Regions from separate parts of the Homo sapiens genome. Here region 2 is linked to region 1. Evidence: fine-mapped expression QTL. A gene starts in region 1. The other region holds a variant in brackets. All regions are shown on one strand. Distances are between the middles of the regions.

Evidence for each region.
Region 2: its variant is fine-mapped to the expression of POC5 in whole blood (INTERVAL, PIP 0.92).

What each region holds. Positions count from the first base shown.
Region 1 is chr5:75,713,062-75,722,173 of GRCh38, reverse strand. POC5 (POC5 centriolar protein) reads left to right here and starts at 4,737. Exons shown (of 12, transcript NM_001099271.2): 1 at 4,737-4,868. LOC441087 (a long non-coding RNA gene) reads right to left here and starts at 4,742. Exons shown (of 3, transcript NR_149046.1): 1 at 4,590-4,742; 2 at 2,117-2,239. RefSeq lists an enhancer at 5,032-5,341.
Region 2 is chr5:75,663,000-75,672,111 of GRCh38, reverse strand. ANKDD1B (ankyrin repeat and death domain containing 1B) reads right to left here. Exons shown (of 14, transcript NM_001276713.2): 11 at 8,623-8,718; 12 at 5,119-5,320; 13 at 2,729-2,860; 14 at 266-1,133. The coding sequence ends at 1,072. Among named protein-coding and RNA genes, the nearest start is that of POC5, 50 kb to the left of the region's middle. RefSeq lists enhancers at 4,632-5,133, 7,544-8,743. The variant T/C (reference allele first, on the strand shown) is at 4,648.

The sequences.
Region 1 (9,112 bases):
ACTTAATTGATAGGTAGGTGGAAAAGGTAGTCCTGCTATGCAGCTATATGCTCAGCTTCAATTAGTTTACTAGAGCAGGAGGGAACTGATATTGAGAGACAGAAAAAGAGAGAGAGAGAGACAATAGATTTACGTTCAGGTCCTGGTTTAGATGTAGAGTTAGATTTTATATGTTCTAATACTTTCTCAATTTTAAAGAGATGAAACTCAAGCATATAAAGAATGTACACCTGCCCCAAAGTTTCCTACCTGATAAGTGGTACATTTGGGGACTCCAGCATAGTCCTTTTGGTGTTTTGTGGGGCTTGGTTTAGGAGAGCTTTGGATGCCATGCAATACCGTGGAAGGCTTTTGGATAGGTGATGCAATCCAGTGATATTCTAAGAAGATAGTTTATCAGCAGTGTGAAGAGTGAATTGTAGAAAGAAGAAATGAAGGCATACAATCAAGAAACAGTCCAAGCCAAATTCAGCAGTGGCTTAACCAAAAACATGAGAGATGGAAAGAAGACAGGTACTAGAGGAGGTTCAGAACTTGGGGCCCATGGAAGGGCCAAGACATGGGGGAACTCCATATTGTCAAACACAATAGTCACTTCACTAGCATTTTACTGAAGCCTCTGCTGGTTTTCCTCCCACTTCTCCAGCACCTCCTTCTCAGTCTCCTTTGCTGGCTCCTCCATTGCTACCCAACCTCTAAACATTAGAGGACATCAGGGTTCAGTTCCAAATCCTCTTCTCTACTCATTTTGCTCTCCCCCACTAGATTGTCTCATCTAGTTCTTTGGCTTTAAAGTGCATCTGTATCAGTTATCTATTGTCATAATAAGCTTACATAACAAACCACCCTAAACACAGTGACTTTAAACAGTCAATAATAATTGAGTTCATGACTCTGTAGGTTGTCTGGGTGGTTCTTAGATTCACACACCTGTTGGGGAGTCAAATGGCTATAGGCTGACCTAGGATGGCCTTGGCTAGGATGACTGGGGCAACTTGGCTCTACTACATGTGTCTTTCATCTTCCAGCAGGCTAGCCCAGGCGTATTTCATCGTTGTAACAGAGGGCAAGAGCAAGCTAAGCCAAGCACGTAAGTATTTTGAAACTTCCGCTTGCATCATATTTGTTAACATTCCGTTGGTCATTAGTAGAGAAGCACTCCAAGTGAAATTGCATGGCACAGGACATCAATACCTGGAGAGATGTAGAATTGGAGCCATTTTTGCAATCCTCCACAAAATCTATATGCAAAAGCCACCCAGTTTATATATCTAGGCAGTGACCTCTTTTCTGAGCCCTAGACATGTAAGTTCAGTGGTCTGATGGATACTCCATTTGGGTATCTCCAGATATTTCATGTTTAAAGAATGTTTAAAATTCAATTTTGATCTTCCACTTTCAAAACCTGCTCCTCTTCCAGTGTTCTCCTCAATATCTGATGCTGTCATCCACTCAGTTGCTCAAGCGAGAAACCTGAAACCTGGAGTCCTTCACACTTTTCTCTCCTTCACCTCAGATACAGTCCAAATCCTATCATCAAGTCCCACCAATTATACCTCCAAAACATACAGTTGGCCCCCTATATCCTCAGGTCCCACATCAGCAGATTTAGCCAACCGTGGATCAAAAATATTCAAAAAAGTAAATTTTAAAAGTAAAAAATAATACAAATAAAAAACAATAAAATATAACAACCATTTACATACATATATTTACATTATGTTAGGTATTATAAGTAATCTAGAGATTATTTAAAGTACATGGGAGGATGTCTGTAGGTTATATGCAAATACTATACCATTTTATATAAGCGAATTGAGCATCCTCAATTTTGGTATTTACTTTGGCGGAGGGGGAGGGGAAGACATCAGGAGTGGTCCTGGAACCAATCCCTAGGAATAGCAAGTGATGACTGTATCTCATTTCTGTCTTCTCTCCATCTCCTTTGCCACTCGTCTAGTTCAAGTTGTCCTCATCTCTCTCCTGAATATCTAAAATACATCCCATTGAACTTAAAATCTCAAATCCTTAACAAGTCCTGCATAGTTGGGCCTCCATCTCTATCTGCAGCCTCATCCTGTGCCACTTTCTCTTCACTCACTTAGCCCTTTCTTACCTTAAGACCATGGCATGCCGTCCCCAACAGAACATCTTGAGTGATAAGAACATGGACTCTGTTCTTACCAGCTACATGAACCTGGGAAAGCTGCATAACCTCTCTGTGCTTCAGTTTCTCTATCTGAAAAATGAGGATAAGAATAGCACCTACGTTAATTTAATTCTCAGTGAGCGAATTCCTACCCTCATTTTTCAGATACAGAAACCGAAGTACAGAGAGGTTATGCAGCTTGCCCAGGTTCACACAGCTGTTATGTATTCATATGTGTGGTGGATTTGTTGGTTTGATATCGGTTTTTCCCATTAGACTCTTAGTTCCATGAGGGCAAACTGTGTTTTGCTCACCACTCTATCCCCAGCACCAACAAAAATTTGCTTTGCCTGTGACAGATGTTAAATATTTGTGTTGAATGAATAAATAATTATGAAGGGTTCAAGCTGGCAACCAAGTTATTATGGGTTTGTGGGGGCTTTAAATTCTCTCTCTCTCTCTTTCCCTCCCTCTCTAGGAACCTTGGGAAAAGATATCAGTTCTAAATTCATAACATCCAGACAAGGTTCTGTCTCTTTCTCTCTATAGTTTTACAGGAGAATGGGATTGTTTACTAAATGGTTTGCGATAAAAATCTCTCCTCCCCAAAAAGGAAGACAGAAAAGAGAAACTTGGAGCCTAGTGGCAGGAGGGCACCAGAAGAGTGATTCAGTATCAATTATAGTGTATGGGGTCACCAAAAGGCAATTCAATTAAAAAACAAATACTAGAACCAAGTATGAATTTGCAGCTATTAATAGGAACTTGTCCTCTATAATAAGCATGAAAAAAAAGGGGGAGAACAAACATAATTTATGCCAAAGAAACTTCTGGTGCTCTTCTTACTTGTTTGTGTAAGTAGAAGTCTGGTTCTGCCAACATAAAAGTAAGTGAGACCCAGGTTATGTCATTTCTATCTACAGAAAAAGAAACCTTATACTGGAGGTAACAGAAGGGAGCCTGAAAACTCACCCAGATCTCAGTATCTGTTCTTCAGATTGCAGAACCCCAGTCTGGGCTACTTAGGTACCTTTGCCATCTGGGTCCTCATACCTCTAGCCTATCTGTTGCCAATGTAAGTTGAAAGACTATATGTTTGTGTGTTCGGTGTTTTAGATATATTAATTCCTTTAATCTCCTACCACCTTAGTATGTGAGTAGTATTATCCAAGGTGACAGCGAGTAGATGGTAAAGCTAGATTATAATTATGATCTGATTCTAAGGCCAATACTTCACCAGAAGGCTCTATCTTGAAGTCTGACACGTTTGAGATTAGTTAAAACTAGACTACCAATTTTGGTTTTTTCTTTGTTTTTTGAGACAGAGTCTCACTATCACCCAGGCAGGAGTGCAGTGGCGATATCTTGGCTCACTGCAACCTCTGCCTCCTGGGTTTAAGGGATTCTCCTGCCTCAGCCTTCGGAGTAGCTGGGACTACAGGCGTAAGCCACCACACCCGGCTAATTTTTGTATTTTTAGTAGAGATGGGGTTTCACCATGTTGGCCAGCCTGGTCTCGAACTCCTGACCGCAGGTGATCCGCCTGCCTCGTCCTCCCAAAGTGTTGGGATTACAGGCGTGAGCCAACGCGCCCAGCCTAGACTAGCAATTTCTCAAAGGGTGGTCTGCAGACTCCTGCATCAGAATCACTGGCAGTGTGTGTTAAAAATTCAGATTTCCTGACGGTGTCCATGACCGAAGGAATCAACACCTTCGGCCGGGCGTGGTGGCTCACGCCTGTAATCCCAGCACTTTGGGAGGCCGAGGTGGGCGGAACACCTGAGGTCAGGAGTTCGAGACCAGCCTGGCCAACATGGTGAAACTCCATCTCTACTAAAAATACAAAAATTAGCCAGGCGTGGTGGCGGTCGTCTGTAATCCCAGCTACTCGGGAGGCTGAGGCAGGAGAATCCCTTGAACCTGGGAGGCGGAGGTTGCAGTGAGCCGAGATAGTGCCACTGCACACCAGCCTGGACGGCAGAGCAAGACTCCATCTCAAAAAAAAAAAAAGCACCTCCAAGTGATTCTGTTGCAGGGGATCTGTGGATGATGCAGATTTTTTTTTTGTTTTTAATTTTTTATAGAGAAAGGGTCTCCCTATGTTCCCCAGACTAGTCTCGAACTCCCGGGCTCAAGCGATCCTCCCACTTCGGCCTCCCAAAGTGCCGGGATTACTGGCATGAACCACCACACCTGGCCCAGAATTTCGGATTGTTCTTATGCAGACGAAAGCATTAGGACTCATATCTAGGTTACCGGAATTGTTGAAAGCCAACAGCACACGGCATTAGCCAACTTCAGCCCTGCTCAACAGCCTCTATCCAAATCAGCTCCCGGAGCCGCTTAGCAGCCTGCAGCCGCTGAACAGAACTGAGCACGCGCAATATTTAATCCCCACGGGCGCTGGGTGGGGCTCCCTAGGACCCCGCCCCCTACCAACCTGCGGAGCCAGGGGGCGGGGCTCTCCAAAGTAATTCCGGCTTCTCCCGGCAGCGGCCCAAATCCCCGCCCCCAGCTCTCGGACCAATCAAACGGCAGATTGCTGAAACAAAGGACCAATGCCCAGGGCGGTCCTTAATTCCTCCCTGCAGTTTGAAACTGTCAGGTTGCCGTCTAGGTAGCGGTTGTGCTTGCTGAGGCTGCACTTGCTGACACTGCAGCTGCGACGCGGCTAAGAGGCGCAGAGCGAGGAGTCGGGATTTGGTCGCGAGCGGCGACGGTGGGTAGCAGCGCTCCGGGCAGATCCTGCGTCCCTGCATCCCTGGCGAAAGTAGTGGAGGGAGATTTAAAGTTCCTTGGCGCGTGTTTCCTCCCCCTGGGCTCTTCCCCAGACCGCGAGTGATTCAGCTGTTGTGCCGGAAGGTCCCAAAGTTTCCCCTCCGAGGCGTGCAGGAAGAGGAAGTGAGCAGGAGTGAGGGATGCTGAGCGATTACTGTCATCAGAGGTTCCGGTCACTTAAAACGTTGAGAAAAAATAACCATGTATAAAGCTCTGTTGTGCTTAAGTAAGATTTTTCTTAAAACAGGCTGGGTCGGAAGGTGATGGAAGAAAACTTATGGCCTTTTGCTTACTGCAATGGCTTTTCTCCTCTGCTTCTAGTCCCTGCTTTGGGGAGGGGCTGGCGCGCCCCTTTCCTTGAGTGCAGCTAGGCCTGGTGAAAGGCACAGGCGACATCACCCTGCTGCTAGTTTGCATGTTAATTCGCTCTTCCTTTGCCTCTTGGGGGTTCCATTTGAATTCCCAGACCCCTGTTTTGCTGTCAGCCAGATAATTACCAAGATGTTATTTTATGTTTCTGGCAACAGAGAAGCACACAAAAGTTTTGATCTTGTTTTCTGATACCTTGGATTAGAGACTACTGAAAATGTAGTGAACTAATGTGCGTCCGCCACCCATTAAAGCAGTTTTCATTTTTCTCCTTTGTTTCTGAACCTAGAAACAGTAAGGAAAATGCTACTGTTCTAGAGTTTCAAATAACTCATACCTTGTTGACATAAAGCAGGGCAGATGGAAGATAGCATATTTTCCAAGAGTGCGGTGGGTTTTTTTGTGTCTGCAGTGTGTCCATATTAAGAAACAATTTTTGAGATCTGACCATACTTACTAGCTCATTTTTAAATAATCAGCACCCCCCCCCCCCCACCCCTGTTACCTGCCTGGTCTCAAATCCTGAAGGAAGAAGTGAATAAAAATATAAATGGACCAAGTTATCACAGTGGTAGATTTGAAGTCAGTGAAGCAGCCATTCCTTGCTGCAGATACATGCACTTATTTTATCCTCCCTAATTGGCTTAACTAAAGACAGTCATGCTGAGATTTAGTTTACTTAACATGTGTATGCACAGTGATACTCACTGGAAAAAGTTGAACTTTCCTTTCCACAATTTAGTTCCAGCCTGTGTTTCCATTCTATTTTTGCACTTTTCCCTGTATCTTCCTTTTCTATTTCAATTTCCTCATCTCTCATTTATTTTTCAGCCCACTGTGACTAAGACCTGTAATTGTTTTACTTTCCAGTGAAATTGTTCAAGCAAACGTCTCAGCAACCTCCTAATCTCCAAATTCTATCCAATCCTCATGGTTCTTTGGCATCTAATTCTATTTTCTTCTCAAAGTTGTGATATTGCTTCCATAGTTCTAATGTTCTGACTTCCTTTGCTGACTCCTCTTCTTTGCTGACTGTTCTTCTCTTGCCCTTTAGATGTTAGTGGTTCTGGCTTTAACCCTCTTCTCATTCACAGTCGTAGTCCTTAACTCTATTAGGGCTATGGTCCCCTCTGAACGCATATTTAAAGCGAAAGATCTTCTTTCTAGAAAAATACACATTCACATTTATGATAAAAATATTGCATACGAGTCGGGTATAGGGACCTGATATGGTTAGGTCTTGTGTCCCCACTCAAATCCCATCTTCAATTGTAATCTCCACATGTAGGGGAAGGGAAGTGATTGGATTATAAGGGCGATTTCCCCCGTGCTGTTCTCATGATAGTGAATTCTCACGAGATCTGATGGTTTTATAAATGGTAGTTTTTCCTGCACTCTCTCACATACTGTCTCACCTGCCGCCATCTAAGATGTGCCTGCTTCCCCTTCTACCATGATTTTAAGTTTCCTGAGGCCTCCCCAGACATGCGGAACTGTGAGTCAATAAAAATTCTTTTATTTATAAATTACCCAGTTTTGGGCAGTTCTTTTTTTTTTTTTTTTTTTTTGAGACGGAGTCTCACTCTGTCGCCCAGGCTGGAGTGCAGCGGCGCGATCTTGGCTCACTATGAGCTCCGCCTCCCGGGTTCACGCCATTCTCCTGCCTCAGCCTCCCAAGTAGCTGGGACTACAGGCGCCCACCACCACGCCAGGCTAATTTTTTGTATTTAGTGGAGACGGGGTTTCACCGTGTTAGCTAGTATGGTCTTGATCTCCTGACCTCGTAATCCTCCCACCTCAGCCTCCCAAAGTGCTGGGATTGCAGGCATGAGCCACCGTGCCCGGCCTGGGCAGTTCTTTATAGCAGTTTGAAAAACGTACTAATACAGGACCTCAGGATAAGAACTTTTTCTCACATTCCTTTTTTATAGGTGGTCTCATCCATTCCCTTTTTTCAGCAGTTCCCATTATGCCAGTGATTCCTCAAACTGGATCTCCAACTTATACCTCCAGTGCGGCGCTCCCACAATGCTTAACTCCAGGAAACACCATTCACAGTGTAGCCATTGTGAATGGCAGTTCTTGGAGTAGCGCACTACGTAGCCAGTGTGACCACAGACTGCATACTTGCAGCTTTACCCTAGTGCCTCAGAGGCATCCTCACACCCAGCTCATCTGATATGGCACTCATTGTCCTTCCTCCCAACCTGCTCATCTTCCTACCTTCCTTGCCTTGGTGAGTGGCACTATCCATCTAGTTACCCAAACCGGAGATCTGGAAGCCACCAACAGTTCTTTTTAACCCCTTGATCTATTATTGATCATTTTCTCTTTCCATCACCATAACACAACTGTCTTGTAGTCATACCCTCCATCCCCTTCCCATTGCTACTTCCTAGACTTAGGTCATCATTTATCTTCTTAATTACTATCAAAGAGAACATTTATCTCTTAGACTACTGCAGTCAGCTCTCAATTGATCTCTCTCTCTTTTTTTTTTGAGACGGAGTCTCTGTCACCCAGGCTGGAGTGCAGTGGTGCGATCTTGGCTCACTGCAGCCTCCACCCCCAGGGTTCTAGCTATTCTCCTGCCTCAGCCTCCCAAGTAGCTGGGATTACAGGCACCTGCCACCAGGCTCGGCTAATTGTTTTGTATTTTTAATAGAGACAGGGTTTCGCCATGTTGGCCAGGCTGGTCTCAAACTCCTGACCTCAGGTGATCCACCTACCTCAGCCTCCCAAAGTGCTAGGATTACAGGCATGATTCACTGCACCCAGCCTGATCTCTCTTAATATCCAAATTCATCCTCAACGCTGCTGGAATGATCTTTCTGATCATGTAACTTTTAAAAAATATTTCAATAACTTGTCTAGAATAAACACCCAGATTTTTAATATGACAAGTTTTGACCTTCCATGATCTGGCTGCTCCTTACTTTTTGTTTCATCCTTAGCCAATCCTTTGCACCCATTGCTTTGTCCTTACCAAACTGCTTGCTGTTCGTGGCATACATGTCCATGGCTCTGTCTTTGCTTATATTGCTCTACTGCCTAGAATATCTACACCTGTGTTTATACCTTTTATCCATCTTTCAGGATGAGACCTACTCATCTTTCAGATCTCAACACCTGGGTCATCTTCTCTAAAAACTTTCTGTGCCTCCTTTCCTGCTTATTTACAGTCATGCAATCTTACCCCATGAAAAATAGCTACTCCTATCTCTCTACTTTGTATCTGTTATTTTAGGGCCTATCAGCAGTTTATTCATCAGTCGGTCACTTATATAATATACATGCCTGGCCCTCTCTACAGATTGTAAACTCCTTAAGAATGAGGACTTCATTTTACATTCCTCACCAATGTCTTACATATTACTGGTATTCAGATAGTTCGAATAGTCACTATTTGTTCTTTGAATAATTCGGTTACTTGTTACTAAAAGTACTTTTAATGATTTTTTGATTAGGACTTTCAACAAATTCTCTATGCATATATTTGATTCTGTTGTTCTGTATAAGCTCACTTTTCTTAAAATAATATTTCCAAAGGTAAGTTTCCCAAGAAGGGAATTTGCACAAATTGTTTGTTCTCTCTTGGTTCTGTGTCTTAGAGGAAAGTACACAGCACCCAGGTTGTCACACATTGCTCAAGAACAGTGATCACAATCTATTATGCTCAACAGGCCCCGCTGGGGATTTTTCTGAAGACCTGACTACGTTATAAACTCACTAATATTGGGACTGGGTCTTCAACTGTTTTTTGCCCAGTGATTTTTTGCCTGTAGGTACTCAATATGTTGAATGAATGATTTTAGC
Region 2 (9,112 bases), 50 kb after region 1:
TACTGAAGAACAGATGGGACAATACTTCTTCTCAATATGTTTTTGAAAAACGTTTTGGAATCATGTGAATCTATTACCTGTTTTAAACATTCATAAGATTAAGTGGGCCATTTATAATCAGTATGAGACAAAGACATAAAACTATAAATTCATGATAGAATAACTGGATTGAAATTGCTTATGGTTTTAGTATGTGCCTTGTAAATTTAGAGTCAGAATCTGAGAATGGAGAGTCTTAAATTCCAATGAATAGGTGCACATAAACTGACACTCAATTTTACATTTATTTCATAACTCTTAGATTACAAAAATAATGCATGTTCTTTGTGAAAAAAAGAATGGAATGTACCCAAAAGTACAAAGAAAATAATCATCTGTAATTACATCACCAAGAGATTTAAAAAAAAAAAAAAATGGTGTACATACTTCTGGTCTTTCCTAAGTAATATATTACACAAAATGTGTGATTTAAAGTCAACAATGACTATAAATTCCAAACCCAGTTTCTCTTACTGAAAGAGAAATAGCAGTTGATTTCCGTACTATGGGCGTGAGGCTACACAGGCATTTTCCCTTCATCTTCATTCCAACCCTATGGATTAAATAGACATCTCTCCCAGTTTATAGAGAAGGAAACTGAAGATCTAAGAACGTAAACAACATTAACATGCCCAAAGGTTCACATCTAATAAGTGGCAAAACCAAGTTCAAAACCATATTTGTCTATTATAAAAACCCTTGTTTTTTTACTGTACCATGATGCTGCTCCCATGAGTTTTTTAAAAAAACATGACATACAAAACCGTCCTAGATTATCTTATTACATGGATTACATCAAATGATTGATAGAAATGGGAAAATCACATACAACTTGCCCTCAGCAAAAAAAACTATATTTGACTTTTTAGTGGTTGAAAAGTATCATGGTATTACTCTTCTTTCATCTGTTAGAGTTCCCTGTCACCACCATCATCATAGTTGAAAATCAGTGCTACTGCTAGAAGAAATTTATGGCATTAAAAGAACTGAATGCTGAGTGGAAAATCATGTAAATACAATTTCTTTAGGCATTTATGAAACTACACATTTCTTGGAGTTTGAGTCAGTTTTGCTTTTGAAATGACGAGTCTTTTCTGGAAAAAATAAGATAACATTTATGAATACCTAAAATTTTTAAAGCACTGATTGTCTACCAGGCACTATTATTCATTAAATCCCACAACAGCCCTTTGAAGTAAACATTTTTATTTTCTTTCCTAGTTAATAAATGAGAAGGTTGTCACAGGAAGGTCATAGAACTTGCTCGAGGTTTACAACCAGTCAGTCAGCTTTGGAGTTCAAGAGTGAGCTCACACAGCCTTGCGTCAGAACACATACCCTTAGCCAGTTCAGTGGACTGCATCTTCATCTTCTCTAAGAGTTCTTATGGAACCTCTTTCATAGGAAGAATACATTTAACCCTTTTCCCATTTAGAAAAAAAAGTGCAGCTCACTGCCAGCACTTCTTCAATTTTACATAAATACGCTCTTTGAGGCTGAAGCAAATCTGATTTTCATTGTGAAAAACAAATATACAAACTTCTTGGAGTTATTTCTAAACAGAACTAACATCAGAATAGTCTGAATCATCCGAATCATCAATTTCTGAAAAATTGGATTCATGGAATGAATCTTTGGCCAACAATTGTTTGAGAACGATGTTAACATCACATATAGGAATGCTACATTTTCTAGGACTTGACATTTTCAATGATCAAGAATTTCCATATTTTGTAAATGGAAATACCACTAGTAAAACCAGAATGCTATAAGTAGAATGATATCTTTTGTTTCCAAAGTCAATATACTAGAGTGATCCAAAAATAATAATAAAAACAAGATAATTCATGGCAAAGTTTTTTCAGGGTAAATGCTGCAAGCACCACTGGTGAGTATTCTCGGGGCCAATGGGAACAGGGTAAAAGTTGAGGGAAAAACTCCAATATTATGAGATCATGTGATGGAAGGTAAGTATCCACACATTGTTCCTTGTACCTACTACTGCTGGAAACTATTGGATCAGTCGGTGTTCACTCATTTATCTTCTTGCTCCAGGTAAAACTGCTTCAGTGAAAATAATGGCAGATGTTCCTGTATTTTGCTTGAATGCTTGTTATTACATGAGAGCTACAACACCGCCTAATTTATTGATAAGTTTTTAAAGGATCTTTCCTGACAATATGGTCAGTGATTTTGGCAGACTGATTTTTAGCAATAACCTCAGGTGGCAAAGTAATAGCCTGTCTGCTCTTTTTGTTCTACCTAGAGATAACATTTTCAAATACACTAACCTGCAGTTTATCAACAGGGGTAAAATGGCATTTTGAGCAAGACAACTCTTAGTCGTGGAGAACAATCCTATAACTGTATGGGATAGTTTAGCACTTCTGCCCCACCCCACCTGCCCCCACCACACATACACATAAACAAAAACACTCCCACACTTTTTCAAATGCTGAGTAGGGGGATGACACAGAACTGCCAGGCTAATGAGTAACCAGTATTGACTGGGTCATTCCCCAAAGGAGAAGCTGCTGACAGCTTACAAGCCCCTTCCATAGTTCCATACTCCGTGTGAGCCACAGCTAACACCACGCTGGGGCTGTAGCTGGTCAGGATGATATTTCTGTAGACTGCTTCCTGAAATTTTAAGGGAGAAAGAATTTCTGTTGTTGAAACTGTCACTTACCAGCTAGTTTTGGGAAACCTGCGTGTACCAGCTCTTCATACAGTTGCTTGGCCGGGTCACCCTGAGTCATCAGGGTCCCGTGTAGCCAGATAAGCAGAGCCCTGTGGCCATGTTCACGGAAGCTTTCATTTCCTGTGCCAAGCACAAGAGGTCCGAGGTAAAACACCACGAGCTGCTATCTCTTTCCATTGTGATCTCAGTTCCAACTAAACTTTCTGAATGACTGTTTGCTTGCCTGTTCCTCTTCGAAAAAAGCCCTTCCAGTTGCCCTCGCTGTGCTGCTTTATGATGACCAGCATTTGCTTTCCCTCCAGCCTGTGCTATGCACCTGCTATGCTTGGCACACACCCAAAGGAGTGTACAAGAGAGAGGACAGCTGTGGTGCCTGCCCAGGGGGAACAATTTTAATGAAATATGCAACTTCTCATAGACCAGTGCTCTTCAAACTCACAGTGCTTATTTCACCTGGGTATCTTACTAAAATGCAAGTTTGGATTCAGTAGGTCTGGGGTAAGAATCCATGCATCTAACAAACTCCCGGGTGCTGCTGCCACTGCTGCTCCATATTCCCCACTCTGAGCAGCAAGCATGCACCATTCATTCTGCCACTCCAGTCTCAAGGAAGCTACTCTGAGGGAAGTTTGCATCCCTGGGCCAGGATTATTCATTTGATAAATACTCACTGCATATCTCAGCCTAGAGAGGTGTTGGGGGAAGTACCGGGATAGGGAGCCACAAAGCCTCTGTGGTTCCCAACAGGACTTCACTACAGGCTCCTTGCTCTGAGAGAGAGTGTGCAGGAGCAGACATGCTGTGCAAGGGAAGGGCCTGAGCTCTGCAGGGGTGAGGGAGAAGTTCACTGGACAGACTGATATGGAGAAGCGGGCATTTCAGGGAGAGGGAACTGCATACTTACAGAATGTACTCCTGGACAAGTCCTCTGTTCCTTTCCTAATCTTGCTCTTGACAAACTAATTTTTCTTAAATACCATCATGAGTCTGTCACTCCTTTGATCAAAAGCCCACAAACTCCCCAGTGCCAGTAACCTTACCCTGGATCACAATATAATTGAATTGCAAGTGTCATTGTTATTGTGCCAACTAGATTATAAACTCCATCAAACATGCATGGCTTAGAGAGCTGATGTATCTATCCCTCATCCAGCAGAAATAAACACTCCAGGCCCTCCATAAAGGTTCCATCGAAACACTTTAAAATCCCCCTTATCCTGCTGGCAAGTACTCTGAAGATACACTATATTTTCAAGTCATCTCTTTAGGTCAAGTTAGAGTTCCAGGAGGCAACTCAATTTTCCTAAAGACTTCACAGAACACTATAAGCCTAATTAATGACAAAAAAGAAATCTTAACAATAAAAAAATTTTTCTAGTTAGAAACTAGTTAGTATTCAATGTTTTCAATACATTATCTTCTATTTTTCACATGAAAATGTATCCTAAGAATGTGCAATACAAAGTCTCATAATTTACTTGTATGTGGTATAAATAGTGTGTGCTCATGGACTGTGCTTCTGCCATCCCCAGTTCCCAGCAATCCCTAATACAAATAGACCCCTGAGCAAGGACACCTTCTCGTCTTAGGATGTCCATGAGAGGGCAGTGCTCTGAATAGAAAACTTTGCCAAGAAACATGTTTGCTTCATTGTTTTCAAAGCTAATTAGTTGATTAATGCCAAGTAAACTTTCTATGTTTCCTAGGTTTTCGTCTAACCACAAAAAACAAAATTAAGGAATCTAGCTGACCTGACTTCACTAATTATGACAGTTTGAGTCCAGCTGAAATGATTCCATTGCTTGGAATCATCTAGCCAAGAAAGCCCTCTGAGTCTGTATTTGCCGTGTCGCTCATGGCACAGCCAAGTCTCCCCTAAGGCAGTGTCCTACAACAACCCTTTCTCC[T/C]ACACCCACCTGCTTTAAGGAATTCCTCTTTCTGGAGCGCAGACTTAAACAGCGAGCCTATTGATTACAGAATGAACCCATTCACCCCAGGACAGTCTCAAGGAACATAGAAATCAGATTGGCTTCCCACTGACACACCAACTGTTAAATCCTTGCTTGCTTCCTTAGTGACCGTCCAGTTGGGAATCTTACTGTCTCTCTAGGCTAAATGCACATGTCTGATATGGGTCAATACACATAATCATCCTTTACAAACTTCGGTTTACTGCAGACCATGAGTGTTCACTTTCTGCAAATCTTAATGCCCAAATCACTGGTGTGGACCTAAGCTAACTGCCCCTATTCCTGGGCCCCTTGAAGACTGCAGCTTATTGTGAGTGCCACACACTTCCTTGGAAGACCTCACACCAGGAGGCACTGCTGTTCCTAACAGTGAATTCCTCCTGCCCACATCATCTAGTCTGTACTCACCCGACCACTGCTCCTCAATGGCTCTAATCTGGTCATCTGTAAAGTTCCACGAACGGGCCAGCCTCTGCCACTCATTGGCCTTCAGCTGATGGTAAGCCAGGTCCCAGAGAAGCGTGCGAATGTGTCTGGTCTCCAGACTGTGATCTTGCTTGAATGTCAGAGTAAAGCCTGTTGACGGGTCCCTGATGCTCTCATGATGCTCCTAAAGTGAAAATAATTGTATCAGAAGATTTCAGACATGTTCTACTTATTACCTTATTTCAGAGTATATATGTTTTTCAAACATAACTAGTAAGGTGGTAACCGAGACTATGTTTTCAATGCCTCCTGTCACTGGATCATATATATATTTTTTTTTTTTGCCATCCAAAATGGAAATAAATGCTTGAAATTAAAAGCTTGGGTACCGTCTGTCTGACACAGGAAATGTGAGGGATTTTGCCTATTGTGTCCCATGCTGCTTAGAACAGAGAATGAGAACAGAGAGGCTGTCTTGGCAAAGGATGTGTCACAACAACAAAACCATCTTTAATGGCCTTTGTTTGAACCCATACCCCCATTTCTTCTTTTGGGTATTTGATGTTCTCATATTGAAGCTTCGGTGAGCCCAGATTGGCTGTATCCTTAATAAGACCCCACAGCTGGTCCCTCATTCATCCTGCTCTCTGGTGAGCATAAGGAGAGTAAACTAGGAGCCTAGCTCAGGCTGGGGCTTGGGGAAGAGGTGACTAAGGGAGTGGAGAGGACAGGAGTGGACATCATTTAAAGTCACTATAGCCAGGCTCAGACCAACAGCACTATGCCTAGATTGGCATCTTGTTTTCTGACTGTTGAAAGGTTCCTTTTGTCCCTTCTGCAGAATCCACCAGAGTCCTGCAGAATCAAACCACAAACACCGGAGAAAATCACTGAGTGAAAGCAGGCATCACTGCTTCCTAGAACTGCATGCTGTGCTTATGCCACTAGGCCTCCAGGTAATCCTCCTGCAGAAGTTTGCAGATCAGTTAAGGACATGCAGGACAAGTGGCCCACCAAGAAGTCTGGGACTTCCTTTCTCATGTATAGTGACTTCTATTTTTGTCTTTCACTTAAATAGAGGTGTATCTTAATGAAAATATTCTTGACAACAAGATGGGAATCCAGGCTGGGGCAGGAAATGAACCAAAACTGTCTAGGACCCTGGGTTTAAAAACTGATGAGAAGAACTTGATGGGCCCCCACCATGGATCCTTCACAGCATCAGAAACCTCCTCCAGGAAGCTCGACAAGGGAAATGCAATAAGCTCCTCCCGGGAAGCTTGGCCAAGAAGGGCAAAACCTTCCTCTAGTATCTGAACTTTGTGTACAGAAGTTGAAATAGGAATGGGAGGTGTGAATTACCCATAATTGTTTTAGAGACTGTAAAAAGCAGGGTCTTCTCCAACCCAGCCTCAGCTTTACTTCCACAGTGCCTAGCTCCCAGGAATTCTAAAAGAAGTAAGATTGAGGATGGGGAGCTCCAGCAAACTTGGGAGCTGTGGGCCACTTCACTTTGTCCTTCTCTCCTCATTCCATCTCCTGAAACAATGATGAATCCAACAAGATCAAGAGCCTAAATGTCACAAGGGAAAGGGAAGAACACAAAATGCTTCTGCATCTATCTTTGTGCGATAACATTTTTAGCTCTTCAAGAAACTTACATGGTTTGTGCCTTTCAGGATTGGATTGGGTGGTCCCTTAGGCTTCCATTGAAAAGGGCAGGAGATTTGGAAAGCCTAGGTCTTTTTCAGCAGCCAGTGAAGCATTAAATAGCTTGCCTGCCAAAACACTGAACTATTTGCAGGAATAACATGAGCCAGAACTGGTGGAAATTAAAATAACATAAGCCAGGTTTTAGGAAGCTCCCATTTGCCTCTGAACCACTGAATTTAATAATGGATGATTGGGTGGTTAGGTTAATGGATAAATGGATATGAGAGAGGAAATTTAAATCATATCTTTAATCCTTTTACTAGGAACCATTTTATATTAGGCGAGGATATAAACTTGTTCAATGAACAAAGAGAATTTAAAATAATAAATGCATTTGGTTAAAAAAATATTTAAAGATGTATCTTAAAAAACAAGTATTTCTCCCACTCCAGACCCCAGGACCCCAATTGTCACCGGAGTTAACAACTCTTACCATTTCTGGGGGTCTCCTTTAGCTATATTCATGTTTTATATATGGTTTTCAAAGTATACCTAACTCTTATGTCTTAAAGATTCATTAGGAAAGAGGGCATATTCATTTGGTGGGAAAGTAATTTATTCTTATCTACCCAAAATAATTTTTAAAGAGCTATCAGGAATTAAAAATAGAACCAATGAATATTTCTATTTCCAAAGAAAATGTGAAAGCAAGTTAAAGAGAAAGAGAAAAGATGGAACTTGGCAAAGTTGTCTTCAATAAAATACAATGATAATTTAAGAAATTGAGCCTGAGGATAGGAAAAGAGGAAGAGGTAAAGGGAGGAGATGGAAGAACATAGAAATATGAGGAATGGGAGAGAAGAAACAGAGTTCCAATTGTTAAAATAAAAAGTTTTACAAGCAAAGCACTTTTTTTGTTTTGTTTTACAGGCAAGAAAAGTTGCAAGGAGGATGGTGTGACCTTTAAAAGAATCCATATATATCAAGACTACCAAGCTAATTAAACAGGATTGTGAGAGAGAAGGAGATGAGTAAATGCTTTTTGCTTTAAGGATTTAAGGGAAATTTCCCAAGACTGGCCAGGTGGACAGCAATCCAGGTTTGTAGAAACTCAGGGTGGGCTCCAAGTGATTAGGGCCTGAATTCTGGAGCTAACACATTGGGCCAGGGGTAGCCACGCAGCCTAGAATGGAAACAACACATCACTATAAATCAAGAATGGTGCCTGGCAGTGCCATTCTTGCCTGAGGGCATGGAGTTGAATCTTGCAGGGGAGGGCAGTCTATTGAGAAGCTGCATGGGTAGCAGATATCAGAGGAAATAAAAATAAAAGAACAGCAAAAAGAATGACTTACAGACAAGTTTTTTTGTGTTCTTAGATGAATAAGGTTTTCGTGACTCTCACAGAATACTTGAGTGCCTGAAAGCCTGCACAGCGGTGTGTTGAAAACTGCCGAGCCACACAAAGGAGTTTTTTAACCACTCATTCGTGCTACTGGGAATAGCTCATGGCCAGACTGTGGACAGAGGGAACAACCAGGCGTCACCCATCAGGGGCTCACACGCTAGGCCCATTATAGCTGGCCTGGTCAATGCCGCTTGGCCCTAGTGAACTCTACGCGCTCTCAGTTCTGACGTCTGATGTCCACAAAGGAAGAGGCAGCTGTTCATTCCACGAATGGGGGCAGCACAAGACAGAAGGGACAGTTATAATTGTACTGACCAGAGCTCTGCTCATTAGAGCAAAGAATGGCACAGACCCCCCCATTGCCCCTGCAAGAAGATGGGTGTTGCCAGGAAAGCCCCTGCTGTGCTGGGATCGTCCTTCCTTACCTCTCTCCAGGCGTAGTATCTCTCTGCTTTAATGAGCATGCCCACGACAAGGCTATGGTTGCTCCTGGAGGCCACAGCCAGGGCAGTCTTTCCTTGCTAAAATTAAAAAAGAAAAAAAATTCAGGTGATATGGCCTAGTGATTAGGAGCTCTAGTTTTGGAACAAGGGGGCCTCGGTTCAAATCTTGATTCTACCAGCCCATGCTGGGTAAACTTAGGCCAGTCCTTTGCTTCTTTGGGTCTTTATAACTACCCCATAGTGGAGTGGTCAGGGGTAAATGTGATAATGCATATAAAGCCTTTAGAACCTGTGCCACCCTGAATATTTCCTAGCCTCTTTTGCAGTTAGTTATGTGACCTAAGTTCTGGCCAATGGTCTGTAAATAGAAGTGGGACATGCAACTTCTGGGAAGTATCTTTAAACAGAAGAGAGATGAATGGCATTTTCCTTCTTTTCTTCTCCCTCCTGAGTGGAATGCTGACATGATGGC